Linked DNA regions of Homo sapiens. The protein of the gene in region 3 purifies or fractionates together with the protein of the main gene of each other region. This does not show direct contact. Each region holds a gene or a part of one and is shown on either strand. Other genes may lie near its edges.

Region 1 (3,500 bases), on a different chromosome or scaffold from region 3:
GCCAGGCAGGACAGGAGAACAGGTAGGTTAGACAGGTGGGACAGGTGACATGCTAGACAGGTGAGACAATGGCCCAGGACACACACCTGAAGCCCCCACCGAGGCCCTGAGGGGACAATGGCCCGGGGCACACCCGAGGCCCCCGCCGAGGCCCCTGAGGGGACAATGGCCCGGGGCACACACCTGAGGCCCCCGCCGAGGCCCTGAGGGGCAGAGGCTTCCCAAAGATGGCCTTTGCTTCAGCAGGAGCCACCCTCTCCCACCCCAAGCCCAGGGCTGTGCTGGCAGAGGGGCCGGCTCCCCACACCCCCACCCTGCAGCAGGGACACCCCCGGCCCCCAGCTGCGCCATCCGCTCTGCACCAGGCAGTGTTCACACCCCAGACCTTGCCTGAGCGGCTGAAGGTGAGAGGCCCCTGAGACTCAAAGGTCCCCACTCAAAGGCCGACCTCAGAAACAGCTCTTCTGTGCGTCTGAGGACCACGGGGCATGGGCGGTGCTCACCTCCAGTTCTTGGTGTGGGGGGGACCGTGCTCCACGCGCAGCAGGGCGTAGCGGGCGGCGTTCAGGGATAGGCCACGGATGCCATCGCCCCACTCCTTCTCGGCCCTGTGGGAAAGGAAGTCGGGGTTTGTCCAGCCGCGTACCTGGAGGCTCCTCTCCCACCTGGGAAAGGGGACTTCTGGGGGCAGGTGAGTTGGGGCAAACAGGACCCCCAGGAAAAGTCCCTGGATGAGGAGGGAGGCCTCCATGCCCACCCTTGCCCTGAAGGGAGCCCGTCCTAGGAGCCACCGGGTCAGAGGGTGCTGTGGCTGTGGAGGGAACGAGGTCTACGTCCAGCATGCGTGAGGTGCCTTCCTCACAGGACGGGGGACAGGAGGCCCATGACAGGGAAGTGGCTGGACCCCGGGCACGAGGCGGGTGCAGGTGGAGGGAGGGTGGGTGCTGGGGCACGGGGAAGGACGCCTGTGGCTGCCGAGTGAGTACAGACACAACCTGGGGACACCTCGCGAGACACGTAGCAGGAATAGTCAGCCGTGGGCTCACCGCCTGCTGAGGACGGCACGAGACAGAGCTCCAGGCTGGAGACCCTGTCCACAAGTGCAGGCACCTCGGCCTGGCTGGAAGTGGGAGGGAAACCCCAGCTTTCACAACACAGCCCACCTGGACGTGCTCCCAGCTGCCCCTGTGAGGGCACACGACGCTCAAGCCCCAGGGAGGCCCCTCCAGGGAGCTGCCCCAGGCATAGCATGAGAGGGGCCCGCCCTCCCGTGCGCCGGGTCTGTAAGGGGGGCTGACAGCGCTTACCCGCGGTACTCGATGTACTTGTAGATGCAGCCAGCGATGAGCATGGCGGACAGCGCGTAGTACCAGGAGCAGATGAACATCAGCGCCAGGCACAGGCTCATACCCAGAAAGGACAGGGTCCTGGGGGCGGGGCAAGTGGCTCGGGGCGGCCCAACGCCATGCAGCCCCCACACCTCAGCCACCACCACACGGACACTGCCCCTCCCTCAGTAAAACTCTCTGTTAACACTAGGAAAACAGTCACTGACGCCTGACGACCATGGCTGTACTCAACCACCTCTGAGGGGTGACGTGGCTCCCTGGGCCCCTGTGGGAGCTGTCACTCCAAAACCCAGTACATAGCTCCAGCTCCCAGCGTGCACACAGCACCTCGGCTGTGCATGCAACAAGGGGCTGAAGCGTCCACCCAGCGCCTGATTCCTGGGGAGGGGAGTTAAGAAGACCCACAGCCCTGATGGGCTACGCCCCAAGCCTGGGAAGGCTGGGCTGACCACGGGAGGTACAAGGCACATGCAGACACCTGGGCATCCTCGTAACCAGAGGCCTTCCTCAGGTGCAGTCTCATCAGCTGCGCAGGGGCTTACTCCGCAAAGGAACAGTCAAGGACGCGCTGGGGTCTTCAGGCCCAGAGCAGCTGGCCTTGTAGAGGCACCCAGTGTCCCAGCCTGTGGGGCTCCTGACGCCTGTGCTGAGCGGCCTCACCAGTGGCAGAGGCACCCAGTGTCCCAGCCTGTGGGGCTCCTCACGCCCGTGCTGAGTGGCCTCACCAGTGGTAGAACTTGAAGCGTGGACGCCAGTTGGGGGTACGTAGCAGGGTCTGCACGGCGCAGGCCAGGTTCACGAACAGGTAGCACATGAGGAAGAACCTGCAGGGACGGCCGGCCACTGATACGGGCCCACTGGGCCCCCCTGAGCCCCCAGTCACTGCCACCTGGGAGACCACCCTTGTCACTGTCCCTCCCACCTGCGCCTTGTCTCCCCATGTCTGTCTCTGCACGTGAGCTGACTCAGACTGATTCCGAATCAGGCCCCCTCAGGTTCCAGCCATCCTGTGACCACCTGGTCCATCAAGAGATGGGCCATCGTCCCTTCCCCAGCAGCCGTCTGTCCAGCCACACTGTCCCTGGCTGACCCCAGCGGGCGGCTGCCTGGAGGCCTGTGTACTTGTCTTCCCCGGCGCAACTCCCTTCCCGGCAGGATCCTGACTGCCCACAGCTGGCCATGCCTGTCTACTGCTTGTCCTGAGCAGGACCTCCCATCCACACTGCCCCACGCTCCAGGCCCATACACCCATCCCCAGGTCCCCGTCCTGTGGGGGCTCACATGGAGAGGATCGGGGCCACGCTGTCCAGAGAGGCGATGAGGATGCCAGTCTCGCAGATGAGGACTGTCAGCAGCAGCGCCCACGTGGGCTCCCCGTTGGCCTTCCCGTGGCCAAACACCTGCAGGGAGAAGGGCAGGAAGATGGGGCAGATGACACCACCCTTTTAGGAGAGAAGCTGCAGGCTGGTCAGGTCTAGCCCAGATGAATCTTAAAGACACAGACCAGCAGAAACGCCTTTCACAGTAGGTCCCCGGGACATCACGCGGCTGGCCTGGGAAGAAGCCCTGACAAAGGGCTGCAGCCCAGGAGGCTTCAGAGCTGTGCCTACGCCCGGCTTGCCTGCAACCTGTGTGGCCCCAGCCTGCCCCCCCGCCTCAGTTTCCCCGACCACACAACACAGGACCAGCGTCTCCAGGGCACTCGCGGTTCCCCAGACCCTGTGGTGACCTTTCTCATCAGGCCACCCTCACCTCCCAGAAGCTGAGGCCCACGGGGCCTGTGTGCCTGTCCCCTTCCTGGACACCATGCCCTAGGCCCGGCTGGGACTGAAGATGCAACCACACAAAGGCCCTGCGGGTCGGCACCCTGCCGAGGGACCAGCGACGGGCAAGGATGGCTCTGCCATCCACGACCTTCCCACAGCTGCCCCTGGGCCCAGGTAGCAGGAGGAGCCACAATCGGCAGCTCTGGGCACAGCACACGGACAGGACCCATGCGGGCGTCCGTGCAATCCTCAGAGCAGCCACACACACTGGCTGCAGGTGGCTGGTGACGCCACCTCCCACGGGCTGAAGAGCTCAGCCACACAGAGAAAGATGTGGCAGGCAGGCAGAGGGCTTCTGACCAGACAACAGACCAGGCACCTCTGG
Region 2 (3,500 bases), on a different chromosome or scaffold from region 3:
CTTCACAGTTGTTTCTTGCAATTTCTCTTTAGTATCTCCACAAGAGGGTAGCTGGGAAAAGAACTAAACTTAAAACTCATCAGTCTACTTCATAATTTTATAGCATTAGTGAAATGCTAGTGATAACTCCTTTTTAACTATGATGAAAGTAAGGTGTGGCTAAAGTTTATGTCAGATTTCTCTATTATTACAAATAATTGTAAACTCACCGGATATATTATACATGTTCAGATTTGTATACTTCTACTAGTTTTGATTACTGGAAAGACTCCAGGAATAAACAAACATCGCAAGTCCCCTTTTTCCTGTCTCAGATGGGAGTGAAGATACCAGAGAGATTGAACAGAATGCTGGACATGGTTTTAGATACTGTCAGTGTTGACATCTGAACAGACTATTGGTTTCCTTTAAATGTGCTGAAAACACATTTGTTAGCTTTCAGTTGTTAGCCCTGTTTGCTTACAATCTATTTGCAGAAAAAAGATACTACATATTTTAACAAATGTATAGATATTTCTTTGCTGTTCAGACTTGTAGAATGAGTTTTCAAGTAAAAATTGTTCAAGCAGAAGACCAAAGTGCTGTCTTTGTATTATCCATTGAAATTCCCATTGAGAATCCTAGTAAAATAAAATTTTCTTCTGACTTACTGTTTCAGTCCCCAGAAGAAATTAGATTGTCCATGTAGTACATTTGATTTATGTATTTTGAGTGTACTACATTGTCCCACGTAGTATATTTTATTTATGTATTTTGAGTGAGTGAATGAACAAACTAAGGTTTTGGTAACTGTAAGCTTTGAAATTTTCTTAGCTGTGAGCAAGATTAGAAGCTCAGCCTTAAGAAGTTGGATTCTGAATTTATTTTCACAGATTCTTAAAGATTGCTCACTTTCCCTGGATATTGCTTTCTGCTTATTATTCTTTAAAACTTAATTGGAAGCAAGCAGCCAAATCAAATCTAACGAGGCTAAGTAAGCCTATATTTCTTCAATAGCCAGTGAGAAAATAAGGTTCAAGATACTAATTCATTTCAGTGATTTTAAGGAATTAAATGATATTTAGACATTTGTTTCCTGATTTAAAAAATGACTGAGTGATTTTTAAGCCATCTGAAATTCTGAGGCAGGCAGTCACATTTGATAGACACGTTTTTAGCATAGTTGAAAGTTTCTCTCTTTGTGAATCAAATTGTCATACTGAATATAATGTAACTACTTTTTTATGTCTCAGGGTCATTATGAAAAATGATTTTAATACTGAGCTTATGGAAATGCCCTAAAACTTTTTGTGTTTAGAACATTAAAAATGCCTGGCAATGTGTGCTTTTTGGGTTCCTTTCAGTCTAATTTTGTTGGCAGCTGCTTCTTAATACAGTCATTATGCTTGCTAATCCATGATTGTGTTTTACCACCATTAATTTACTGTTGACTTTAAAATCCAAAGCACATTTATATCTGATGTATTTCCGCAGATTGCCTTCCTTTATTATAACATTTATTACCATATTAACCTTATCCATTTTCTTCTGTTTTTCCACAAGATTGAGGTTCTTCAGGATTTATCTATTATCTAAATATTCCCTACTGTCTGTTAGACACTAAAAATTGACTGTCTGGCCAAATAGGTGATTGAGTGAATGAAATAAAATGGAATGGAGTGGAATGAAATTAAATGAAAAGTCATATCATATATGAGATAGACAAGTTTTTTATAAGGGTCTATAAAATTTAAAGATTTCAGAAAGAGTATATGGTGTATTCCCTCTGTAATAGATACATATCTGTTGTCACTTCTTATAGTTCTTTTGTTGTTGTTTTGGTAGGCATGGGTTTATTGTTGTTGTTGTTGTTGTTGTTGTTTTGTCTGTTTTTTCTTTTTCACTGCCTGGATCTTGGTTGTACTTTGAATGGGTGATAAGATTTTACTGCCTTAAAACTTGCTTTAACTTACTCAAAGGTATTTCTTCTAGTCTCCCTTTCCTGGTGATGATGAAGAGGAAGTTTTTGACAGTATTGTAAATGATGAAGTAAGGTATCCAAGGTTCTTATCTACAGAAGCCATTTCTATAATGAGAAGGGTAAGAATTAAAATAAGGATAAGAATTTTTTAAAGACTACTTTAATTTTTTATACTAAAGAAAATTTCCCAGTAGAACTTTAAAAGCTGTTTTTCAGTTCATAAATGTTGCATGGCTTAGACAAAAAAAGACAAAATATATCTAAGTTTTTTAAAGTAATAATCCTTATCAGTGAATTTTATTCTATTGGTTTTATTTTAACTTTTTTATTTTACATTATGCTAGCTGTTAAGAAGAAATCCTGAACGGCGCCTTGGGGCTAGCGAGAAAGATGCAGAGGATGTAAAAAAGCACCCATTTTTCCGGGTAAGTGTGACTATTTAAAATTTTTTATGAAACTAGAGCGATTAGATTTAACAAACTAAACTAGTCATTTTTTATTTTATGATCCAGCTAATTGATTGGAGCGCTCTGATGGACAAAAAAGTAAAGCCACCATTTATACCTACCATAAGAGGACGAGAAGATGTTAGTAATTTTGATGATGAATTTACCTCAGAAGCACCTATTCTGACTCCACCTCGAGAACCAAGGATACTTTCGGAAGAGGAGCAGGAAATGTTCAGAGATTTTGACTACATTGCTGATTGGTGTTAAGTTGCTAGACACTGCGAAACCAAGCTGACTCACAAGAAGACCTCTTAAAAATAGCAACCCTTCATTTGCTCTCTGTGCCACCAATAGCTTCTGAGTTTTTTGTTGTTGTTGTTTTTATTGAAACACGTGAAGATTTGTTTAAAAGTACCATTCTAATACTTCTTCAAAAGTGGCTCCTCATTGTACTTCAGCGTAAATATGAGCACTGGAAACAGTTTCATGGAGTTTAAGTTGAGTGAACATCGGCCATGAAAATCCATCACGAATACTTTTGGATCAATAGTCTATTTTTAAAAAGAAAGAAAAAAACCACTTTTTTATAGTCCCTAGCTTTGCCATATGCCCGCCTTAAGTGGAAGGAAAGTTAATCACTTAACTATGTTTTATAAAAAGAAAAAAGGGCTTGGAATGCTATTACTGTTCACACAAAGTATGATTCTGTTTGAATAAGGCAAATGCTCCTTTTTTTAAAAAAAAAGACATTACTGTAATATCAAAAACCGTGGCAGTTTGTATACAACTCGGGGCTTGATTTTTTTTAAAAAAACAGAATGAATTGATGTCTTATTTTATAAATGTTCTATATTTATTAGGAGAAAACTTTATATTGCCTTTTTTATCAATCATGTAACAGGCTTATAGCTTTCCAACAGAGCTGCTTGCCAAACAATTTTTTTTGTTTATTAAACAGTGCTGAAACAAACAGGATCAGCATTTACTTAAGATGTTAAGAATGAGGACTTTTAATCAGCCGAACCAAGATATTGTTACCTGTATGCATTCCCAAAGTCTAGATGCTCAGTATGTTCAGTCATATCTTTCAG
Region 3 (4,259 bases):
AAGAACTGGTCCCTGAGCTTGGTGCCTTGGAGTGTGTGGGGAGGGGGCGAGAGGCTGGGGGCCTGGGACGCAGAGGGTGGAGGATGGTTCTGGGTCTGCTGTCTCCACCCAAACTTTCCACTGCCAGCCTGCCTCTGCCCAGGCCTCTCAGCAGCCTGCTGGGTGGGGCAGGAGCTGGAGTGGCGAGTGGAAAAGGTCCAGGAGGGCTGCTGGGCTGCTAGGAGTGGTTTCTGCTCAGCTCCCACACCATCCCTGCCTTTCAGAAGCATCTTTCAGCCCTACCCGCCCCTCCACCAAGCCAATTCCCCAACCCTGAGTTCTCTTGCAGAGTCTTAGGCCCAAGGGGGCTGTTTCGGGCCTGGCGGGAGGGTCCCCGCCTTGCTCTGCTTTTGATCTAGGTGGTGATGGAATGCTAGGCCACCCACCACCCCAAAACCCACCTCATCCTGACCTACAAACTTGGTGGCATGATGGTAGCAGTCCTGGAAGGAGGAAGAAGAGAGACTTGAAGGAGAGAAGTGGGACAGGAATATGTGGTAGACAGAGTTAGGGGCAGAGACGGACAGAGTGAGACAGCCAGCCCCAGAGACAGAACCCACAGGAGAGGTGCGAGCAGAGGTGAGGAGAGCCAGAGGTCAGGGCAACGGGTCCTGCACGCTCCTGCCTTTGGCAAATCGCTTCCCATCCCAGCTTCAGCCTCCTCCTCTGTACAATGGGGGTGACCCATACTCCTCCCTGTTGGAATGATGGGGTCCCAATCAGTGATTTCCTGCATCTCCTGGGCAGCCGAGGGGCCTTGGAAATGACAGGCATAGTCCTAGTGGATCCCCTCCTTTCACCCCTCCTGACTGAGGACTTCCATGAACTGGGCACACTCCAGGACCCAGGGGTGCAGCGCTGAGGGGATCAGGCAGGCCCCCTGTGAACCCATGAAGCCACCCTGTCAGTCACTAGTGCTCCTATTGTGGCCGCTGTTCCATTACAGAGGCAGAAGCTTAGATTTCAGCACGGATCAGTCCAGGCAGGAGGTTCTCAGCTGGAGAGAAGGGTCTGGAGTTCCCACCCAGATTGGCCTCCCAGGACCTAATATGTCTGTGTATAAAATAAGAGAAATTACTAACAAATAAATACATGAAATGAGATAGAGGCTCTCCGTGTGCCAGGCAGCGGGAAGACAGGGGTGGAGGGGCAGTGGCACAAGGAGCCTTCTCTGCTGTGAGTTTATTACTATTAAACATTCCCTCTTATTATCAGCTCCTAGGAGAGGGGCAGTGCACCCGGGCCCTGGGTGATGGGGGGATCAGGGCCCCCAAGAAGAGGTGCCACTCCCGCTTCGCCGGGCTTGCCCCAGGGCCAGGGTCCGTGCCAGGTGTGGGTGGTGGGTGGGAAGGGGTGGGGTGAGTCATCAGGGCCAGCCCCGCCCTGCTTTTATTTAAGGTCCCCAGCAGGCCCCACCACCACGGCTGCCCAACCCGGTCCCAGCCATGTCCGTGAGTGCTCCAGGGGCCCGGGGCGGGGCCAAGCAGGGAGGGGGCTGGGGGCTCCTCTTTCAAAGGAGCAAGTGGGCAGTGAGTGTGCCACGGACTGGCCTGGGCTGTGGCCTCCGGGTAACCCCCATCCCGACTGTCCCCTCTACCTCTTTGTGGCTTCCTCTGGGGCCCTCTTTGAGGATCTTTCTGTTTGTCTTTGTTGCTCTCCCCATCTGTTTCCCTGTCTGTTTCTGGTCTCTTTCCTGCCTCTCCGCCACCCTTTCCTCTTCCACTGATTTCTGCCAGTCTCAGCCCTGGTCGGCTCCTCTGAGGGGTGACCCACCTTCTGCCTCCCTCCTTCGGTCTCACCGGCTCACAGTGGCCCCTGCACCCCACTCTTGCAGAACGTCCCCCACAAGTCCTCACTGCCCGAGGGCATCCGCCCTGGCACGGTGCTGAGAATTCGCGGCTTGGTTCCTCCCAATGCCAGCAGGTGAGGCCCCAGGCCCTAGGGGTAAAGGGTACAGGTCTCAGGATCAGCTGACTCCCAATTTTTGCAGTCCAGAAGTAGGGGCCCGAGGCCACCTGTATCCACCAGGCTAGGAGTCCGAGGCCATTTCTGACCTCAAATCTGATGTATTCGTATTTGCCCCCGTGCCTTTGTGGCTGGGGTCCCTAAGTTTCCCTAAGCATTTGAGGTCCCTGGGTAATCTCAGGGTTCCTAGATATAGTCCTATGACTTCCATGTCTGAGTCCCAGGGAACTCTGGAAATACTCCAAGTCCTGGAGACACCCTGGACCCTGGGAGTCCTTGCCAAGCCATCCTTTGACTTCCTGGCTAAGGAACTTCGGGCCTTCTGGATTCTGAGGTACCCTGGAAATACTGGGGTTCCTGGTATTATTCTTTGTCCTGTAGAAGCTGAGGGTTCCCTGAGCATCAGGAGCACCCTGGCTATCACCCAGACCTCCTGGGCAGCTCCCAGGCTCTTTGGAAATGAGGGCACCCTGCCCTAAGCGTAGTGAGTTTGGTCTGGGTAGGTTTCTGCCAAGGGCCTCATGATATTTTGGCTGCCTTGGGAATCTAAGCTCCCTGGTCATTAGTCGCCTACCTCTCCTTCTGCGGTGTGTGCCTGTCTTCAGGTCCCTGTTAATTTGGGGGTACTCTGGGAATGGGGAGTGCCAGTCCATAAGACCTTCACTTTGGTCTGGGCGGTTTATGTTTTGTTTGTTCTTTCGTTTTTTTGTAAGGTGGGGTCTCGCTATGTTGCCCAGGCTGGTCTTTAACTTCCGGGCCCAAGCGATCCTCCCTTCTCCACCTCCCAGAGTGCTGGGATTACAGGGTGAGCCACTGCACCCAGCCAACATTTCATTTACTTATTCATTCAAAGTAAATTGTAGACATCGGTATTCCTCACCCTCAACATTTCTTGGTCTGGGTGGTTTCTGAGCCCTGACGGCCACCATCCTCCTCTTCCAGGTTCCATGTAAACCTGCTGTGCGGGGAGGAGCAGGGCTCCGATGCCGCGCTGCATTTCAACCCCCGGCTGGACACGTCGGAGGTGGTCTTCAACAGCAAGGAGCAAGGCTCCTGGGGCCGCGAGGAGCGCGGGCCGGGCGTTCCTTTCCAGCGCGGGCAGCCCTTCGAGGTGCTCATCATCGCGTCAGACGACGGCTTCAAGGTGCGTCTCTGCGACAGGGGCGTGGACGCCAAGACTTAGGTCCCTGGAGCAGAGGGTTGGGCAAAGCCAGGCTATTGGTGGAAGGCAGGGAGGTTCGGGGCGGGGTGAGGGGGGTAGGGAAGTCGTGGCCAAGGCGGAGAAGGGTGTCCTTCGACCCTCTCTCTCGCCTAAACAACTCCCACTTGGGTCCGAGGGACAGAGAGACAGCAGGGTCAGGACGAGGCGAGCACCAGCCAAGTGTCCAAGGGGTGGGCGTCCTAGCGGGAAGGCGTGGCCCAGACTCGCCATCCCAGACCCTACTCCCAGTTCATTCCTTCCTGAGGTCCGGGGTTTGAGGCATGGGGAGGGATGGGTTGGAAACAGCGCCCAGGAACTCGTCCTAGCAAGGATTGGCGGGTGGGAGTGGCGGCAGATCCTCCACCACCCACAGCTTACGCGAATTCACCTCCCTCCTCTGCGCTTTAATAGCGGGTAATGGTCGCTGAAATGAGAATATCCATTACCAGCACTAAAAAAGCCTCTTTTTACTGTGCCACACAGTCAACTCGTTTGATCCTCACGCAAGAGTTAGAATGAACAATAGCCCCATTTTCCCAGTGAGGAAACTGAGGCCCAGAGGGGATGAGTGATTTCCCCAGGGCCACCCAGCACGGGCCTCCGGAATCCTCACCACCGACCCTCCCCTGCAGGCCGTGGTTGGGGACGCCCAGTACCACCACTTCCGCCACCGCCTGCCGCTGGCGCGCGTGCGCCTGGTGGAGGTGGGCGGGGACGTGCAGCTGGACTCCGTGAGGATCTTCTGAGCAGAAGCCCAGGCGGGCCCGGGGCCTTGGCTGGCAAATAAAGCGTTAGCCCGCAGCGCGACTGTGTCTGTGTCCCATTCACTGAGATGAGCAAACTGAGACCCAGAGAGGCCAAGATACTGGCTCCGGGCCACACAGCGAATCCGAGGCGGAGGCGGGCTCTGAGCCTGCCTGTGCTTAGGACACTTTCTGTCTGCGAAGGCGTGAGGGTCGCGATCTGGGAAGGAGTGGGTGTGGGGCGTGCCCTGACGCAGCATTTGTGCAAAGCAAGCCAGCTGGGAATGCGGTCGGGCGGACCTGCTGGCGTT
Region 4 (3,500 bases), on a different chromosome or scaffold from region 3:
TTAAGTACATTGACATTGTTGTGTAACCATTACCACCATCCATCTCTAGAACTTTTTTAATCTTCCCAGACTGGAACTCTGTACCCATGAAACAGGGATTCCCCAACTCCCCTCCTCCCACCCTAGACAACCACTGTTCTACTTTCTGTCTTTATGATTTTGACTATTCTAGGTACTTCATCTAAGTGGAATCATACAGTATTTATCCTTTTGTGATTGCCTTAATTCACTTAACATAATGTCTTTAAGGTTCATCCATGTTGTAGCATGTGTCAGAATTTTTTTTGAGGAAGTAAATTATTTGAAAGACTTCCACAGCAGGTAAAGTGGAGGTCAGGTCACAGAATACTGTTTGCTAGGATTTGTTTACCTCCCTTGGAAGAACTCCGTATGTGCCCAGCAGAGCCTAGAGAACCAGGTACCTTGTCCTTAGATACAGTTTGGGCACACTTGCTTATTCGAACAAAAGAAACAGAGCAGATTGTGACAGCAGGGTGGAAGACAAGGAGAACATAAAAGCAAAGGTTGCAGGAGTCCAGGGTAACATTGAGTAAGGAGTAAGGCCTTTTGGGTCTCAGGATGCCATCTTACTGTGTGATCACTGACATTCGTGGTGTGGGCCTGTGTCAAAGCATGTCGTCCAGAACAGTTAACCAAAAAAATATGTGTGTTCAGAATTGTAAATAAGCCTTCACCTATCTGAAAGGCATATTCAGTGACTCAATCCCCAGCTGTTCTGGTTAGTTGAGGTTTTGCCATATTTCACTCTTGTTTCTGTATTGATAGAAAACTAGTACGTGTTTAAAAAGGCTTAATGACTTACATAATAATGATACCACCTAATTAATGCTTTGTATTTTAGATTTGCTGTATCACTTTAATTCTGTATTTGTGAAATATAGATGTCCAATCCTGGTTGGAGAGAAAGCAGGTTTGACAGTTAAGGGTAATAGAGAGTTGAGCAGGTATGTACTTTCAGAATGGTTAAAGAGTTATATTTTCCTCCATTATTATTTTTAATGGCTGTATTAATGTAGTAAATGTGGGATGAGTTTCCTAATACTGTTTGTTACCGGGGGGAGGCCATCTCTTAATTACTGTCCTTTCTTCATGGCAAGGATGTTTTTGACTTTCTGGAAACCATTGAAGAATAGACAGTAAATGTCATGAAGCCTGATTTTTATTGTGCGTTGTGTTACTATTCAATTCTTAAGAATGGTTAGTTGTTTCCTAGAGTTAGTAAGGCTTTTCTGAGAAAGTATCAGTTTCTTTGGCATGATGTTGTCTAATAGAGCATAGAGCCACGGTAGTAAAAGTCAATGGTTAGGGGAGGAGATACAGGGTAGGAGACAGTTGTCTAAACTGGAGTGCCTGGGCTCAAGCACTTCTCCTGCCTCAGCCTCCTGAGTAGCTAGGACTACAGGTGCATGCCCCAGCACCTGGCTAATTTTTTAAAACATTTTTTTTTTGAGACAAAGTTTTGCTCTTGTTGCCCAGGCTGGAGTGCAGCGGTGCAATCTTGGCCACCTCCGCCTCCTGGTTTCAAGTGATTCTACTACCTCAGCCTCCCGAGTAGCTGGGATTACAGGTGCCTGCCACCATGCCTGGCTAATTTTTTGTATTTTTTGGTAGAGACAGGGTTTCATCATGTTGGCCAGGCTGGTCTTGAACCCCTGACCTCAGGCGATCCATCCGCCTTGGCCTCCTAAAGTGCTGAGATTACAGGTGTGAGCCACTGCGCCGGGCCTTTAAAACATTTTTTGTAGAGATGGGGTCTCTCAGTGTTGTCCAACCTGGTCTCAAAACTTCTGGCCTCAAGTGATTCTCTAGCCTCAGCTTCCCAAAGTGCTGGGATTACAGGCATGAGCCACTATGCCCAGCCTGGTTTTCATTTTTATCATTGAGCAAAATGAGCAGGGTTGGGTGGTCTAGCTAAAGATAGAAATTTGAGAAACTTCGGGTGTATTATTGTTGTTATAGGTGTTTATGATGGTATTAAAACATCTGAATCCCTTGATCTCTTAATGTAATTAATATTAATTTAATTTTATTTCTCTTTTAATGTTGGCTTTCCAGTCCTCAATCAAGTTATAGTTGCACTTAAAAATACGTAGTTTTCTTTATCGTTAATATGAATAACACCATATGCAAATTGGGAAACAGGCTTAGATCTTCTCCTAGGCATTATCTGTACCCAGTTTTCCTGTAAGTATTCAATTGGGCTCCTCAATCAACAGAGAAGAGCTTCAAATGACTTTCTTTGTTGTCAGGCTCCATTCTCAGGAATGGCTATGACAAGGGAAGCAGAGGGCTGGGTGGTCTCTTCTGGCCTCCCCTTCTAGGGAGAGTCTTCCTTTTCTGCAGCAAGTGCTTGAGGAGGGCTGCATGATCCCGCAGCCAGTCAGGGCGGTAAGACACAACTGCCCTCACCCTAGCTCCTCTCCTAGCCATTGACTTTTACTCCTGTTTTTGGCTTTCTATTGACTTTGTCTGACAGGAGTGCTTTCCGGAATAGTGTGCTGGTGAAATGTTGGGTTCTCTACAGCCTCCTTCAGAGGATTCCCTGTTCTCCCTATGCCTCGTCTTTTATCTCATTGTGACCTTCATTTTCTCCCAGAGTCCCAGCCCCATCAGGCCTGGACCCACTGTCTAATCTTTGAGCTGCTCCCTAGCCAATCCACTTTGTTCTTTCCCTCTTTCCCTTCTGTGGCCCCGTAAGCCACCTGCAGCCTTCCAGCCAGTGCCTCTCTCTGCTCCTGGATATAGACTACCTTGGAGGAGAATTCAGGTTCTCCAGAAAGACCTGTCTTGAGGCAGACCTTTCTGTCTTTGCCTTCTGTAACCTTTTAAGACCTTCCCTTCTTTCTATTTACATCTCTCTCAATGAAGTTGTCCACATTTAGAGTTTGTCTAGCTCCTGTGCTCCTCTAAGACCCCTACATCCCTGCCCGTTGGGCTTCCAAGTTGGGTGCCACACTGGCATCTCAGAATCCACAGGTCCAAAATAGAATTTCTCCTTCTACCCCAAAGACGCCAGTCCTCTAGTGGGCCTGTTTGCCCAGGTCTCTTTCTTTACATTGCTCCTCAGCGATGGTGTTTGTTTTGTCCACTGGGAGCTTTCCTGTGGGACTTGAGGTCTTATTCTTCAATTGCCAGCCTTGGAGTTAGAACGTACAGTTCTGACTCCTTGGTTTTCAAGTGTTTTTAAAGTTGTGGAACCCTTTGTTCAAATGAAATCTTTCTAGGAAGCCCGATAAGTAAAATAAAATGAGAGTCCTCCTAGTGGAGTAGGGGTGAAGGGCCAGCATCCTGTCCCACGGCAGGATAGCTGGACATTCTCTGCTTCCCTCTCCTCCCAGGCAGGACTGGCGGCTGGCTCTTGGGGCAGCCTTCCCAGTGGATTCTGCATAAATGGAGCTCCTCAGAGTTGCTGTCAGCACTGCTTTGAGGGCATGCTCTATGTTTTAAACCATTTTATCTATTCTGTACCCCACTTCCTT

What was found. Proteins that work in one complex are often made in the same cells at the same time.
Region 1: the proteins of LGALS7 (region 3) and SLC12A7 purify together in Homo sapiens (affinity purification with mass spectrometry, with the first as the bait; one large-scale study listed by BioGRID). This does not show direct contact.
Region 2: the proteins of LGALS7 (region 3) and PKN2 purify together in Homo sapiens (affinity purification with mass spectrometry, with the first as the bait; one large-scale study listed by BioGRID). This does not show direct contact.
Region 4: the proteins of LGALS7 (region 3) and SFMBT1 purify together in Homo sapiens (affinity purification with mass spectrometry, with the first as the bait; one large-scale study listed by BioGRID). This does not show direct contact.

The regions. Positions count from the first base shown.
Region 1 is NC_000005.10:1,074,064-1,077,563, forward strand, and holds part of SLC12A7 (solute carrier family 12 member 7), read right to left. Parts: intron 2,750-3,500; coding exon 2,631-2,749; intron 2,174-2,630; coding exon 2,075-2,173; intron 1,428-2,074; coding exon 1,308-1,427; intron 609-1,307; coding exon 504-608; intron 1-503. UniProt on the Homo sapiens protein: Mediates electroneutral potassium-chloride cotransport when activated by cell swelling. May mediate K(+) uptake into Deiters' cells in the cochlea and contribute to K(+) recycling in the inner ear.
Region 2 is NC_000001.11:88,830,773-88,834,272, forward strand, and holds part of PKN2 (serine/threonine-protein kinase N2), read left to right. Parts: intron 1-1,971; coding exon 1,972-2,079; intron 2,080-2,304; coding exon 2,305-2,385; intron 2,386-2,472; coding exon 2,473-2,676; 3' UTR 2,677-3,500. UniProt on the Homo sapiens protein: PKC-related serine/threonine-protein kinase and Rho/Rac effector protein that participates in specific signal transduction responses in the cell.
Region 3 is NC_000019.10:38,770,718-38,774,976, reverse strand, and holds LGALS7 (galectin-7), read left to right. Parts: upstream 1-1,459; 5' UTR 1,460-1,484; coding exon 1,485-1,490; intron 1,491-1,873; coding exon 1,874-1,962; intron 1,963-2,946; coding exon 2,947-3,148; intron 3,149-3,837; coding exon 3,838-3,951; 3' UTR 3,952-4,009; downstream 4,010-4,259. UniProt on the Homo sapiens protein: Could be involved in cell-cell and/or cell-matrix interactions necessary for normal growth control. Pro-apoptotic protein that functions intracellularly upstream of JNK activation and cytochrome c release.
Region 4 is NC_000003.12:53,036,074-53,039,573, reverse strand, and holds part of SFMBT1 (scm-like with four MBT domains protein 1), read left to right. Parts: intron 1-3,500. UniProt on the Homo sapiens protein: Histone-binding protein, which is part of various corepressor complexes. Mediates the recruitment of corepressor complexes to target genes, followed by chromatin compaction and repression of transcription.